2 separate regions of the Homo sapiens genome follow, and region 2 is linked to region 1. The links come from fine-mapping of genetic effects on gene expression. Tissue or cell type: esophagus mucosa. Region 1 holds a variant in brackets; the other region holds the start of a gene. All regions are shown on one strand. Distances are between the middles of the regions.

The links. PIP is the estimated chance that this variant, and not a neighbour inherited with it, causes the effect.
Region 2: it holds the start of LINC01559, and the variant in region 1 is fine-mapped to the expression of LINC01559 in esophagus mucosa (GTEx, PIP above 0.99).

What each region holds. Positions count from the first base shown.
Region 1 is chr12:13,335,323-13,343,504 of GRCh38, reverse strand. No RefSeq gene overlaps it. Among named protein-coding and RNA genes, the nearest start is that of LINC01559, 37 kb to the left of the region's middle. RefSeq lists an enhancer at 3,017-4,216. The variant G/T (reference allele first, on the strand shown) is at 3,735.
Region 2 is chr12:13,372,428-13,380,609 of GRCh38, reverse strand. It overlaps LINC01559 (long intergenic non-protein coding RNA 1559), which reads left to right and starts at 3,865. Exons shown (of 3, transcript NR_036555.1): 1 at 3,865-4,096; 2 at 4,185-4,386; 3 at 7,172-8,182. RefSeq lists an enhancer at 4,063-5,262.

The DNA.
Region 1 (8,182 bases):
ATCAGAGTGAAGGTAGAGATAGCTTGGAGGAGGAAGAGGATGAGTTATTTAGGAATAGTTTAAGTTTCCAATATGTGATAGATTGTATTACAACCAAATTATTTGCTGTTTCTCACCCAGGATGTCCACCAGGTTTGGTCATGTGCCTTTGTTTTGGCTAATGAAACGTGAGCGAACATGGGGGAAGTTTCAACAGCTGGCTTATGCTTTGCCAAGATCTCTCTTTTCTTTACTCTGAGGTTTTCAGTGTTCCACCCAGAGGCTTCTCTGTTGGCTTGGGCCCTAGAGTGGAGATGGTTTGGAGCATATCATCGTCAATCTGTGGTGAGCAAGTAGAATGAGTAAGAAAGAAACCTTTGCTACTGTAAGCCACTGAGATTTGGGGAGGGTTTGCCACCACAACATAACCTAGCCCATTCTGACTGAGTCAAGATGCCTGTGGGGACATTATATTTACATGAAGTTTACCAATAGATCATTTTTTAAAGGATTAGCCATCTTTCTCTACTCCTATCTGAAAACTTCTGGAGTAACTATTCATAGCTCTATGTCTTGAGAAAAGTCATGTGTCCATTTTTACAGCCGAGATGGGGCTATAAAACTGTGTCCTGCTCTCAGTATAGGATCTCCACAGTGTAGGGTGGGTGACCACAGTGATAAGGGGCCTCACAGGTGTATAGGAAGGCACAGTGTCAGAGTAGGGATGTGCATAGTCAACTTTTAAGAAATGGTGGGTGACAGAGCTCAGTTAAAAGGATCAGCAGATATGGATTTTATCTCAGTATGGACCTTGCCGATGAAGAAGGATTATTGACCCAAGAATCGGGAGAGAAAACCGAAGAGAGGGTTCAAAGAAGGTCTGAAGTTGAGAAGGGAGACTAGCAAGCCCCTGGAGGCTGCAGAGAAGTCTGAGACTGGAGAAAGGAGGCTCGGACAGAATTCTGCTTCTGTGTGTCCCAGGGTCTGGGGGTGGCACTGTGGCTCTGTGGGCCACTCCACATGGCTATGTGCTGTCATGCACATGTACCCATGAGATTTCCCATCTGGGGGGACATGTGAGTCTCTGTGTGTGAATATCATGTTTGTCTTCTCTGAGCCTTTTGGAGAAACAGAAATTCATGAGATTCTGTTACATGAGAGTAGTGTGGCTCTGCCCCACCTTGGTTGTGAGTATACTATTGTGTGTGATAATGAGGACTATCTGATCCTTACAAAATAAGAGGGAAAGAGCAACAGGAGACACCACTCTTTCCCCCAGAAAGGCTGACAGTTTGCTTTCGACTGGAGAAAAATAAGAAATCTCCCAGGAAGCAAATGTCATGAGGGGAAAGGACAATGACGAGAAAATGAGACACAAGGGAAGGGGAAAGAAGGTGAACTTGATAAAAAGTCTGCAAGGGAATATAAGTGAGAATTCTACTAGTGAAGATGGAAGAGCATTTTGAGAAAAGGAGACAATTTTAGATGAACCAAAACCAAATAATATCAAAGGCATTTCTCTACATTCTTGTGCAGCCAATACCATAACATTCTGCTTCATACATACATTCATTCATTCACAAGCATTATTGAGAACACATGTGTGCCAAGCATGTGCTAAGTACCAGGGACATAAAGATGAATAAGATCCTGCTTTAGTCCATTTGGGTTGCTATAACAAAATACCTTAGAATGGGTAATTTATAAACAACAGAAATGTACTTCTTGCAGTTCTGGAGGCTGGGAAGTCCAAGATCAAGATGCCAACAGATTTGATGGGAGCCCACTCTGCTTCATAGATGGTGCTTTCTTGCTGTGCCCTCACAAAATGGAAAGGGTAAGAAAGCTCCCTCAGGCCTCCTTTATAAGGGCACCAATCCCATTCATCTGGTATTCACCGTCATGACCTAATCACCCCCCAAAGACCCCCCCTCTTAATGACATTACATTGGGAATTAGGTTTCAGCATATGAACTTTGGGGAAGCACAAACATTTGGACCATAGCAGATCACCCCTGACCCAAAATGTTCAGTCTATGGTGCCTTATAAATTTATTACGTGCCATTTTTGCTAAAATATTAGCTCCTTAAAGACTAGGACTGTGTTTTCTCAATGCCTAGCACATAGTACATCCTCAACAAATATTAATTGAAAGAACAAATGAAGGAATGGATGTCCAAGGGGAGAGATACACTAAAAAACAATGACCCTCCAGTATGGTAAGTGCTCTAGCAACATAAATTGCTATGTGAAGCTTGAAAAGGGGATTCCTAGAAAATGAAAAGCCTGCCTCTAAGAGCTCAAGCTGTGTGATGATGGGGAAGAGGATGTGGGTCCCTCTGAGGACTTCAGCAAAGTGACGGAAAAGGAGACTTGAAGAATGAATAGGAATCTCACAGCACAGCGGGGTAAGCCAAGCTCAAGCTCTGAAGACTCAAGCAGCTTCATCCAAATGGGGAGCAGCAAGAACTCCACATCTAGGATGAAGTTCCCGTTGGGGTTGTCTAATGAAGAGAAGACAATAGAGGCAATAGAGGACCATTAAATGCTTTTAAAAAAAAAAAAAGAGGAACATTATTAGAATTGCATTTTCTACAAAAGCATTCTGCTACCAGCATGGCCGACAGATTTCAGTTGGGGCAGTGCTGAGACAGAGGAACAAATAGGAGACTATTGTGGGCAGTGTCTGTGGGAATGGCCAGGAAAATATGCATATGGGAGAGACTTAGAAGCTGGAATCAAGGATCTGACAGCCCATTGGTACAATCTAAAGTGGTTATAATAGCACTCAAAAATCTGGCTTGAGTGGGCGGTACTACACAAGTGACTTTTTGGGAAGGAGGACAGTCAGAGTGACAGGAGGAAGCTGTCTTCCTACCAGCATTCTGAATTCTAAAGGGATGAGAGAAGATCAAGCAACCATGCAGTGACCAACAGGCCATGGCTGAAACTACCTATGTGATGCCATCTGCGTTTATTACTGACTGGAGCTAAGTTGTGCTAAGATTGGAAGGAGAAAATGAAGAGCCTGCCTCTGACAGCTTGAGCTGTGTGATGGTGGAAGAGAGAGTGTAGGTTCCTTTAAGGCCCATGTACAGGGTGAATGGGATGACCACTGCCTTTCCAATGACAGCCAGGCCCAGAGGGAGACTTCTGGCTCCAGGAGGGCTGAGATCACGCCAGGCTTGTTCTCCAGGGTATCCCCAGGGAAGGCAGTGTCTGGCACATGTTGGAAATAAATGTTTGTTTAATACATAGAGGGAGATCAAAGTATGATTCAGATGGGGGTGGACATATATGGAGAGAACTTTATTTTCCACTTTTAAGACTCTATTCCTGGTGATGGAGGTGTGGGGAGAGGGTGGGGGAATTTAAATTTATCGACTGACAGTAATTCAGCATCCTTTGGTTTAAAAGTCTCTTTTAGTTAAATTTCATCCCTTTAGGGTAAAGATCATCTGACAGTCAGTATTTCTTCCTCCTTCCCCTTTTCCGTTCCTATTCCCAAGGTGGGTAGGGGGGACCTAAGTTTTCAAATATTTAAAAAAGCACTGTGATGTTAGTCGCCAGAGGGTGAGGCCACACTCCCAGTCCATACCTTGTCCTCTGACTCTGGCTAGAGGCATTGCTAGAGTCCACAGATGATGAACTCCACATTCTCTCCCTGGGAAACTAACACACCCTTCCTTTGAGTTGTCTACCTATCCTATTAGTCATACTCTCTGTCAGGGGTTATGGGAACTATCAAGTCCCG[G/T]GCATGTCACACACAAATCATGCCTGCCAAAGAACTACCATACCCAGCTCCCCAATCCCAGTGCTGGCTCCACCCTTTCTCTTGTCATGCATGCCCCTTACTCATTATGGGCTCCTCTGATAGGCTGGCAGCCTCTGTGGGCTGGGGAAGCAGGGCTCCACCCACAAGAGTCCCAGAGGCCTGCACATCTATCTTGGTGTGTTTACCACACACTGAATTCCAAGGTTGACCCTGGTGGTGGCAGGAACATGGGAACATGAAAGTTGTAATTGACCTATTTTCCTAGCTCCTCCTCTCTAAACCAGACACTCATGATTTTTACCTTTGTCTAGAAGGCATCTCAACCTACGAGTCTTGCAATTCACTCTGTTTTAACTCACCTCTTCATGTGGGAAACCCATGTAGAGAATTGAACTGTAATCTCCACAGACTATTGATCTTTTAACTAGGAACCCCTGGATGTGTAAGCCTCAACCTGCAGAAACAAGTATCTCTGGTAGGATTTCATGTTCTTCCTGTTAGACGGAATGAGAAGAACTTTTGAGTTGTCAGCTCCTCTCAAACTCGCTTGACCTATATAAATGTGTTAAGAGCCACAAACTTAACTGCCATGGTCCCACTTAGCTTAACCTTTGGTAAGTGCCATGGTGCTTAGAGAATTTTTTTTTTATTTCGCTGTAAAGCATGGGCCAGCAAACTAAGGCTTATAAGACCAAATCTAGCCCAAGGCCTGTTCTTTTTTTTTTTTTTTTTTGGGACAGAGTCTTGCTCTGTTGCCCAGGCTAGAGTGCAGTGGCACGATCTCGGCTCACTGCAAGCTCCGCCTCCTGGGTTCACGCCATTCTCCTACCTCAGCCACCCGAGTAGCTGGGACTACAGGCACCCGCCACCATGCCCGGGTAATTTTTTGTATTTTTAGTAGAGACGGGTTTTCACTGTGTTCGCCAGGATGGTCTCGATCTCCTGACCTCGTGATCCATCCGTCTCGGCCTCCCAAAGTGCTGGGATTACAGGCGTGAGCCACCGCGCCAGGCCCCAAGGCCTGTTCTGGATGATCCTTGAGCTAAGAATGGTTTTCACATTTTCAATAGATCAGAAGAAGATAAGGTGCTAGAGAAGGAAATAAGAGGAAGAGAAGGAGAAAGAAGAAGAAAAGAAGGAGGAGGAATGCACACGGAGGCCGTATGTGGTTGACAAAGCCTAAAAAATTTACTATCTTACTCTTTTCAGAAAAAGTAAAGAAGGAGCTATTGTATCAAATTCATAAATTAGTTTGGGATGAGAGTCTCTATTATCCCCAAGGGCTCATTCAAAGCAAATCAATTTAACAAAATTATCCTTCTTCAGAAGAAATTGAAACCCTCATTTTCTTCTAAGATCCTGAGAGCTCATCAAGTTAGGAAGTTAACATTGCTTTTGTTGCAACAGGTAGGATTTTGTAGGTGACCCCTCAGTCACAGGTTGCTGTTCTCCAATGATCTAATGTCCATTTAGTATCTTTACTCTCTGACCATAAGGAATACGAAAAGGAAGCCACTCAGGAGTTAGCCCAAGCAGCCCGGCCAAGCCTGTTGGATGAAAGATGGGGGATACTGCCCCAGGGACACATGCCCCCATTCTCAGGTTGCAGACTCCCAGCGCCCTCGGACCCAGCTTGGGAAAACTGGTTGGAAGAAAATCACTACACACATCTCTTTGTGCACCGCCTTGATCCTCTTACCACCCTAAACAGTTCCCATGCACTTCAGATTGCCACTTCAGATGCCATGATTAGCCAACCCCTGAGAGGTGCACAGCAGACCTGTGTGCAGACAGACAAGCTACTTACACCGGTGAAGCCTGCAGCCCCTGGTAGCAGCAAAAGATGACCATAAATTGCCCGATCTTTCAGTCTAGGGTAGCCCCAGATTTCTCCTCTCAGAGAAAAGGCCATGCGTTATTTGTCCCATGTATGCCAACCCCACCACAAACATAACCAAAGGGAGACAGCTTGGCTCCTGTGCCTCACTTCAGGTTTACACTCTGCACACAGCAGAGTGATGCTGTTCTTTCTCCCAAGACACAGGTTTTTGTCAGTCTTATTGCGTACATACCCATGGTCATGCACTAATCTTTTTGTCTACAGCAGCACAACAAAGATAGAAATCACTGCCAGATGCTGGAACATGAAGGACAATGATGAATGAGTAGTATACCAAATTATAGCCCGTTTGTTACCCATCTTGTTCTTGTGACTTTTGTGGCCACTGTAGATATGATCTAGCAGTCATCCAGTGACTTAGCTGTCTTCTAAATTTGCAGCTATATTATTTGATTTTGTGGCCTTTACTCCAGGCCCAGAAACTTGGCATTGGCATTGCTACTTTGGAAATCAGAGTATCTCATTCCAGGAGCGTTTCTAAGGGTGTCTAGTCACACAGAGCCAGGGTCCTGTATTCAGATTTCACCACTGACTTTCCTCAATGTTTGGAGTATAATCTGGGAGCCTTGGTGCTCTTCTGGGGCTGTGCTCTGCTCATCACTTGGAAGGGTTGTGTTGCTTGCCCACCTTTTCCCTGCCTCTCCCTTAGACTTGAACACAAGGGGCTGGACTGGTTGTATTCCCAAAATTCATCAGTGAGGCTCAAAATACAGTTACTTGAGCTTGTGTCTCCTAGCAGGACTGGGTAAGTCATCAGGGTGTCTCTCTCTTTTTTTGGAGACGGAGTCTCGCTCTGTCGCCCAGGCTGGAGTGCAGTGGCGTGATCTCAGCTCACTGCCAGCTCCGCCTCCCAGGTTCACGCCATTCTCCTGCCTCAGCCTCCCAAGTAGCTGAGACTACAGGCCCCTGCCACCATGCCCTGCTAATTTTTTGTATTTTTAGTAGAGACGGGGTTTTACCGTGTTAGCCAGGATGTTCTCAATCTCCTGATCTCGTGATCCGCCCACCTCGGCCTCCCAAAGTGCTGGCAAGGTGTCTTTCTAACTATTTTAGAAGAGCACCATAGGTATGGAGCTCAGATCCTGAAGCCAAGTTTAAAAATATGAAAGGTGTATAGACTTTTACGGTCACAGGTGTGGGGGGATTCTTCTTTTAGGAAAAAGTCTTTGTCCTTTCACTTATTAACTTACCCAACAGGCATCTACTGAGAGTCTATTCCATGCCAGGCATTGTGCAAGGCCCTTGGAATAGAGAGATGCAAACAGTATATCTTGTCCTCCAGGAGCTCACAGACCAGTGTGAAACCCCAAAAGATGAGGACTTAACTGGAGACTCTTACAACACTGCTAGTTTTAGGGATATTCACAGAAATTCCAATTCTTCTCTCTTTCCCAACACATGGTAGAATTATACTTCCCTGCTCTCTTGAAAGTTAGACATGACCATGGGACTTGCTTTAGGCAATGAAATGTGAGTGGGAGTGTAGTAAATGACTTACAGGTGGAAGTCTTTAAGAAACAGCATGCGGGGCCAGGCACAGTGGCTCATGCCTGTAATCCCAGCACTCTGGGAGGCCAAGGCGAGCAGATCACAAGGTCAGGAGATCGAGACCATCCTGGCTAACATGGCGAAACCCCATCTCTACTAAAAATACAGAAAAAATTAGCTGGTCGTGGTGGTGAGCGCCTTTATTCCCAGCTACTCAGGAGGCTGAGGCAGGAGAATGGCGTGAACCCGGGAGGCAGAGCTTGCAGTAAGCTGAGATGGTGCCACTGCACTCCAGCCTGGGTGACAGAGCCAGACTCCATCTCAAAAAAAAAAAAAAAAAAAGAAACAACATGTGTTACCATATCCCATTTTTCTCTCTTTGGGAATTTTGGAAGAATGTGTAGAGGTGAAGCATCTATCAGCCTCAGTCCCTGAGTGACTATAATGAGCGTAACTCTGACCAGCCCACATGAGATAAACTTCTGCTGTGTTAACCCACTGATATCTGGGGAGTTGTTTGTTACCACAGCATAACCTAGCCTATTTTGACTGATACACACTGACTCCAGAGAATGAGGTTTTCCAGCCTTCGGTGATCAAAGAAGAACCTTTTGCATGTCAGAACCACCCTGTTATTTGAGGAACACCTATACACACGGAATGGGGGGCCTCTTGGAGCTGTCCGGACAGCATCATGATAGCAGCCATGAGTCACAAAAGGTCTTTCCATCTACCTTCTTCTCTGCTCACCACTTGTGGGCTTCCTCACAAAGTTGCTGCAAGTCAATTAAAAAATCTCCCAGCTTATGGCATCTCCTGAGAGAGATGCCCAGAAATTCAGCATTTCCTGCAGCCTGTGCTTCCCTTTATCACGGCCCTTTTCACATTGTTTATTTTTCTATCTCACTAGACTGTGAGCCCAGGTGATGACCTGGCATGATACTCAAATCAGAACAGATAACCAATTCCTACTTTTCTAAATGAACACATGTTGAGTGAATAAGTGAACCCCTCTGCTGCTACCTTTGTACACTATATC
Region 2 (8,182 bases), 37 kb before region 1:
AGGAAGGAAACAAGAGAGGAAGGGAGGGAGGGAAGGGAAAGAAAGGCAGGGCAAGGAAGAAGAAAGAAAGGAAAGTAAGAAGAAATGGAGAAAGGAAAGGGAATGGAAGGGAAGAGAAAATAAGGGAAGGGAAGGAAGGAAAGGGAAAGGAAGAGATGAAATTAAGAGATGTTTAAAAGATGGGATTCCAAGGGCTCAGTGACTGATAGGATGTGGGCAGTGGGAAACTTGAGAATGATCTCGATTGAAAGTGTGAAAGAAGGCCAAAGACAAGCTAGCATGGATTATAGAAGGCAGTGGAGCAGAGAAGGAGAAAATGGCTGTGGGGCAAAGAAGCACATGTGTTGTATGGAGGGTAAAAAGACCTGGGAGAGAGGTGTGCAGGTGTTTGGGATGAATGCTATCTCCATCATGGGTGGATAAACTGCCCCAGAACCTGTTTTGTGCAGTCACATGAGTGTGGACAGCTGTAAGAGCTTATCTTGGGTACAGGCAGGGCACAGTCACACTGTGTGTGCATGGCTCTCTTCCCCCTCTCTGTCACGCTTTCTAAAGACTCTCATAAGAACCCACTGTTGGCAGAGCCACATTCAGAAGTCAAACTTGGTAATTGATACCGTAATCCCCTGGATTCCCTCATTAGCAGCTGCTAATGGCTGGTGTGTTAACCATTCAATTAGGGCTCTAATAGGCCCATTATAAACTGCATCCATTCGAAGGGAACAGAAGAGCTGGGAGAGAAGACTGAAGCTGGCAGTGAAGATCCCTGACAACACCAGAGGCCTCCCACTGTCTCTGACTGGGGTGCCCTAGGTCTGGATTAAGCCAGAAGGCCTCTCCAGAAGGCCAGCCCAATGGCCAGATATTGGACTTCACAGAGAAAACAGTGGGCCTGGGATGGCCTCCAGCCAAAAATCTGGAGACTTTCTCTGCTGCAAAAAGAGCCTCCCTAGGTCTGGACATCCTCTGGTGATTTACCCTCTCCCAAACCTGTACCTGTAAATTCTGCTTTTACCTCTACTCTACCCAGCAACCCAAACTCAAAGGAATATTCAGAGCATCTGATTCAGAGAGATTGCCAGTGCAGCCACCTCCTCCAGCATCTGCCCTAGAGTCCTGGCCCATTTCCATCTCTCCAGCACGTTTTCCCTCCAAGATATTCTTTTTGGAGAAGAGAAAGTTTGAGATATGGACCTTGCAGAGTTATTTAGTCGGGTGAGGGTGTTGCCAATGCTGACCTTACACAATTCAAGAGACCCTGGGGAAAGTTCTACATGTGGCCCCCTTCTTGTGGTTTATGTCTCTATCTCCAGAGAGATCTGACTTATTAGAAACAAATTCCTCATCAGCAAAACTGGGATATCACTGGTAGCAGGTATCCCTCACTAGAGGCCAGCATATATTTTCCAGGACTCACTGGAATAGAAGTAATTGCAAAGATTCTTAACCAGCCCCTTAGTTGGTCAGAGGAAATGCAGGGAGGTGGGATTTACTCAAAAAATTGGTTCTGCATCAACCTCAAGACCACCAGGCTGCTCTATGTGTCACGTTATTTCTTTTATCCTTTATTGTTTTAATTCTCACTTCTGAAAAAATAATCAGATAACGTATATGCAAATATTCCATAAAGCATAAAATATCCTCTCTCTTATCTACCTGCCTTTTCAGGTCCTGCCCCCAGAAACCTCCCACAAGCCTTGGAGCCTCCAGTCTCACATACAGACCTTGATCTGACCTTGGGATCCACATTGCAAAGCCAAACCCATTTTCACACACACACACACACACACACACACACACACACACACACACACACCAAAAAAACAGAAACCAGGGAACTTAACCATACCACTTGCTGCTCTCCAACATCTTTTCAAGCCCTGCCTGTCTTCTTACCTCTGTTGTCTTCTATAGCTAGTGGGAGGCAGCTTCTCTGGGGTACTCTGTCAGACTCTGTCAGCATGATGCCTTAACTAGGCAATTTCTTATGCTTCCTAGGCCTAGATAACATAGCCAGCAATCCTACCTGCTGGGCCAGGGTCAGGAAACAAACTGAAGACACTGTGGAAGGCTTTTCTGAGATCACCTAGAAGCCAGGGCAAAGAATCAACAGAGAAACCAGCTGACTCTAGTATTGACTGTGAGTAGCAGAAAGAACACCAAACTAAGAGCTCCAACTAGTTCTGCTAGTTAGCTTTGGTTAAATCCTGTCTCCCCTCTGGAGTCATCTACAAAGGGAGAAGATTATTCTGATCGTCGTTTTGTGAGTGCCACCAGAGGAACAGAGAACTCCCCGCTGCCGCCCCACCTTTTCTGATAGCCCCAGGATTTCAGGCCTGCCTCCTGCCTTCCTATGTGTGGACAGAAATAGGCTGTAGGGAGGGCTAAGGCTGGGAACACACCCTACAGAGTCTAATACCTGCTTTGCCTCACAAACCATGTTAAATTAGAAATAATGCATAATCAGGCTGTTTTATCCTACCCAGAAGCTAGCAGAAAGAATTTGGCAAAAGCTGTTAGGAGGTCATAGGAGAGAACCATGTTACCATTGTTCTCAGAGGCCTCAAGAGAAGGTGGTGTGTTCTAGAGTTAGTTGTAACTATGCAAATGTGGTAGGCAGATTTCTAAGCAGGCCCCCATGCCGTTAACCCTATGATGTCATTCCTATGATTATGCTATACTGCATGTCAAAAGGGATTTGCAGGTGTAATTAAGGTTACTAATCAGTTGACTTTGCAATAGGGAGATTGTCCAGATGGGTGTAACCTAACAAGCTATAGAGCTTTCTTTAGCTAGTGGCAGAAGGGGAAGTGAGAGATAAATAAAATATGAGAGGGATTTGATGAGAAAGAGGTTCTCTATTGGTAGCATGGAGGGAGTTATAGGGAATGACCTCAAGAGAGCAGTGTCCAGAAGCCAGGAGTGACCAAGAGTCAATAACCAGCAAAAATCAGGAATTGCAGTCCTTCAACCACAAGGAACTGAACTGAACTCTGCTAACAACTTGAATAAGCTTGGAAGTGGATTCTTCCCGGAGCCTCCAGACTATAACCTAGCTCAGCCAACACCTTGATTTCAGCCCTGTGAGACACTGAGCAAAGAACCCAGCATGAGCCCACCCAGACTACAGACATCTGAGATCATAATAAGTAGGTGTTGTTTTAGCCATGATGTTTGTGGTAATTGTTAGGCTCCCTAAGTGTGGCTGCACTATCGCCAGGCCATTATGAACTCTGTGACCAACATGTACACCTCCAGAAGTGAACTCTGTGACTAGCACGTATACCTCCAGATAGCTCCCTGGAACAAAGAGGCCCAAAGCAACAAAAGAATGACCGCAAAGAAGAAAAACAGCAAGTTCCTGTTCCAGCCGGTTAACCATCCCTCCAAATCTATAACGACCAACCCCCAGCTGTAACCTTCTGTAACTTTCCACTTGCTACCCCAGCCTATAAAACCCCCTCTTCCTCATTCCTCAATGCTGACTCTCTTTTCGGACTCAGCCGGCTCACACCCAAGTGAATAAACAAGCCTTGTTGCTCACACTTAGCCTGCTTGGGTTGTCTTCTCAATTAAACACGTGCTTAACAGTTATTTGTTACACAGAAATCAAAATGTTAATATAACAAGTAACTCTGACCCTTCTGCCATTCTGCCTTTGCTGGGCATCTTGAATCTGCAGCTGGTTCAAGGGCTGGTATCTCAAAAGAGGAAATCCAGTTGTGATGGTTAATCTTTTGTGTCAACTTGACTGGGCTAAGGGAAGCCCAGGTACCTGGTAAAACATTATTTCTAGGTGTGGCTGTGAGGGTGTTTCCAAAAGAGATTAGCATTTGAATCAATGTGCTTAGTAAAGAGATCATCCTCACCAATGTGGGTGGGCCTCATTCAATCCATTGCAGACTTGAATAGAACTAAAAGGAAGAGGAAGGGCAAATTTGTTGGCTGCTTGAGCTGGGATATTCATCTTTCTCCTGATCTTGGACATCAGAACTCCTGATTCTCAAGCCTTTGGGTTTGGACTGGAGGCACCAGCTTTCCTGGGCCTCCAGCTTGCAGATGGCATATCATGGAACTTCTCAGCCTCCAAATTCATGTGAGCCAATCCTTTATTATTTGTATAATTATGGTATATTCATTGTATTATATCTATCTAATCTCCTATTGGTTCTGTTTCTCTACAGAACTCTAATACACCAGTACAATGGAAAGATTCCTAAATTCAAAAGCCAGAAGGCTGGGTTCCTGTTCCCACCCTGCCTTTTACCTTCTGTGTGTTCCTGATGAAGACACTTCATGCTCCACTATTTACTTACCTCTGAAACGAAGGGCTGACCCAGATCAGTTGTTCTCTGACCTGCTTGGAGGGACTCAGAGGCTGTGGAGGTGAGTGGGAAACAGGCCAGGTTCCAGGCCCACACTTCAAAGAGACAAGGTCTGCTTTGGACTGTTTTACACACAGGGCTTCTGAGTTTTAGATTTCATTAGAAGTGTTTCTTCTGCCAAATGAAATTTGAAAACCACTGAGCTGGGTGATTATTAGGACCCATTCCAGCTGTCATATTCTTCCAGCATGAAGATCAAGTTCAGCAGTGCAGCAGCTGGAGCTGTGGAAAGAGGTGGTATGAGTTTGGGCTTGAGTTAGTGGACATGGTAGCCAAATCAGAGATCCCTCTCTCATTCAAGTCATCTGTTGCTACCTGTTTGCTCTGGAGGTCTGAACTTCTGGGAGATAAATGTTTAAACTGACAGACTTCAGTTCAAATAATGACTCCACATTCGTATCCTGATATTGGGTAAATAAATAAATCTCTTAAATTCCCAGAGCTGCAGGTTCTTAGCCTATAAAATGATGACATCACCTACTTTGCCCAGTTATTGTATATACTAGTTAACATGGTCTAAACTGTGCCAATTGGAAGACCCAAAATGCAATGCCTTGAGAAGAGTAAAAGGTTTTTTCTCTTTCATGTAAATAGTCTAGAACAGGCCAGGTGGTGGGCCTTCTACTCCAAGCATCCTTCAAGGAACCCAGGAGATGCTAGTTCTATTATTTTCAGCACGTTGCTCACAAGGTTACTGCAAGGTTTGTATTCCAGCCAAGCAGGAAGGTGGGGCGGAGGTGGGGTGGTATGGAGGAGCCTATGAGCCAAGTTTCATGGTCAGGTCTGAGAGTGGCTCACATCACTTCCACTCACATTCTGTTGGTGAGAGCTTAGCCATACAACCACACTGAGTTCCAAAAGAAGCCAGAAACTAGTCCCTGGCTGGATAATTCCCTCCCAGTTAAAATTCTATTGCTTTGGGTGCGCTGAAAAGTCTAGGGTGGTTTCCACCACATTACACATAGAAAAGTGCTTAACACCTAGGAGCCTCCGGCTCAGCATCTCCACATAGGCCCAGCTCTGCTGATTAAGTGTGTTTCCATGTGGGCATATGCGGAGGTGGCCAGCACTATTCCATATCCTCATTTCAGGATTTTTCACAGCTGCTTTCAATCTGCTTCTCCTAAATGACTCTCTTTGGCTACACCTCGTTTTCCTAGAGTGAATATTTCCATCAGCTGATGCCCTTCTCAGGCCTCAATCTCCCCTGGTTTGCAGACTGTGGCCCTCCTTGGCCTCTGTGGAATCTGGCCATTTGAATCCTGTCAGCCCTGTTCTCCATCACCAAAGGACTCCGGAGGAACTGTGCCAAGCAGGCTGTCAGCCACGGGCAAGCTTTCTGAAAAAGACGTGCCAACTGCAGCCACAGAAAGTCCATTCCCTTGAATAACTTTGCTAATATTTGAAAATTAGTTCCCTTGCTCCTGATCATGCTACTGGGTATTTGGATATAAGAGCAAGGATGAGGGCAATAGAAAATTAAAATCATGTTCTACTCATATAAACTGCACAGATATGGAAGGGTAGGTCCTATTACCTATAATCCTGGGATTTTTAGACTCTCACTTTCATTGGACCAGAGTTGCCTTAGGGACAGTAAAAACACAAAATGCTGGGTATTGTTTTCATCAAGCAACTACTGATAGTGCACATTTAAATCAAAATTCTTCTAATCCCAAACTCAGTAAACAGATGCTGTGAGCTTAGTTCTGCCCCTCTGGCTTCAGATTTTACCCCACTGGATGTGCCCAATTCTGAGATGACAAGACGCTTCCAGCTTCCACATGGTTGCAATTTGGCTGTGGAACTGGCATGAAAGCACGTCACTGTGTCAGCACCTGGGCCACCAGATGAATAACCTATGAACAACAGCTTTGGACTAAAATATGAAGGGGTTGTTTTCCTTCAATCTCCCCCTACCTTCCTCAGAACCTGCTACAAGGAAAGATTTATAGACTCGAAAGCGTCAATGACTGATTAGACCCATATGATTGCTCCTGCTGTTTCTGATATTTTAAAAAATTGTCTTATAAAGAGATAAAAATAAATAATCAATGGAAAAACTTTTGGCATGGGAGAGACATTTAGGGAAAGAAGTCATTTCAGCCTCCCCCAACACACACATGCACACACACATACAGCCTATATCACACAATGGAGGTGAGGACCCACTCAATCTAGGCTCAGGACTGGCTCCATGGGACAGATGGGTGGGACAAGTCATCCTGCTGCAGTCAGGTAGCAGAGAGCACCGAGGAGACTAAGATGACAGAGACAAAATAACTAGAGAAAAGATACAGGAGCTAGGGGGAGAGGGTTGAGGTTTGACGAAGCTCTCTCTTCCCAGTAGGGGAGAGTTGGAAGCCACAGATGTAGTTACAGCCCCTTGTTTTCCAGATGAGGAAACAGGTGCTGTGATGTTAAGAGCCCCCAGTAGTGGTCCATGTAGCCAGTGGCCTATGTCAGCTGGGCTCTTACTCTCATGGGAGAGGTGCCACCTTCAAATGTCTGAGATCCACTGACCTTCTTTGAACAATAGCAGCTGAAGTAAGAAAACACCATGAAAAGCCCATGCCTCTTTAGCGCCATTTTCATATTGATGTTCCGTCTTCCTCCATGCAGTCAAAGGGCAACATTTTCTCTGCAACTTCCCAATTTTGCCTGATGCAAATAAAATGTGCTGCTCTTGTCCTTCTCTCCTTTTCCCCTTAGTATTCTTGATTTTCCCCTAGATACTCAAGTAATGCCCAGGTCTCAGGAATGTATAATCTCTTGCTTATCTCTAGCAACAGATTTGGGAATGAGGAATCGTTCCCTGGAAGAGTCAGAGCGCTCGTAGACACATTCTGCTGGATTGCACGAGCTCCTCCCCTGGGAAATCCACTAAGACTAGAGGAAAGAATTGCTTGGAGGATTCAGAGGCTGAAGAGTGGACAGACGGCTTTAATTGAGAAAAAGAAGCAGAAAATTGAGGAAGATGTGAGGCATCAATGCCAGCAGACGACATGTGACAGGTGCTAGCCACATGGATCACACTAAATTTCTGTCATTTATATAGATAAAAAAGAATTTCCAAAGAGCTCCTCCATAATTCAGCATTAACCAGCTTTAAATCATCACCTTTCTTTACCTTTTCAAAGCACTTTTATCTAGCTAGCTTTCACTTTCAGAGTGGCCAATTCAGGTGAGGATTCTCAATCCTGTTCTGCAGCTGAGGAACTCATGCTCAAAAGGGCTAAGAGTTTATTCTCTTACATCCAAACACCTTGCTTTTCCAAATCTTGTGCTCACTTTACCTACACATTTTGATTTTTCCAGGCTGATGACAAGTTAGACATGCAGACTCCTCAGGCTCATTCATAATCTGTATAGACATTACAGGTCATGCAAATTTAAGAAAAGGCTAAAAGGTGCCCGTTTGCACCCAACATGTTGGATAATGCCCCGGTAAAGTGGAAAATCAGTTTCCACAGCCTCGCTCTGTAGGTTTCCTTGGAATTGTAAAAGCATAGGACTCTGCCTCATATTTATTTCTATACGGCAATGAGGATATAAAGGAGCAGACCGAAAAGAGAAAGGAATTTTAAAAGCCATGGAAAGCTGCCCTAAATGTGGTTGGATATAGAGAGGAGAGTGCTGAAGGCAAACAGCTGTGCCCTCTTTGCCTTTTTGCTGAGGAAGGGGATTTAAGCCAAAAGAACACACGTAAACGTGGATTTCTTAAAGTTCTCACTGTAATTATGTAGCCTTGGGAGATGAGGAATTGTAAAGTAGATGCTGGCTTAAACAAATGATAA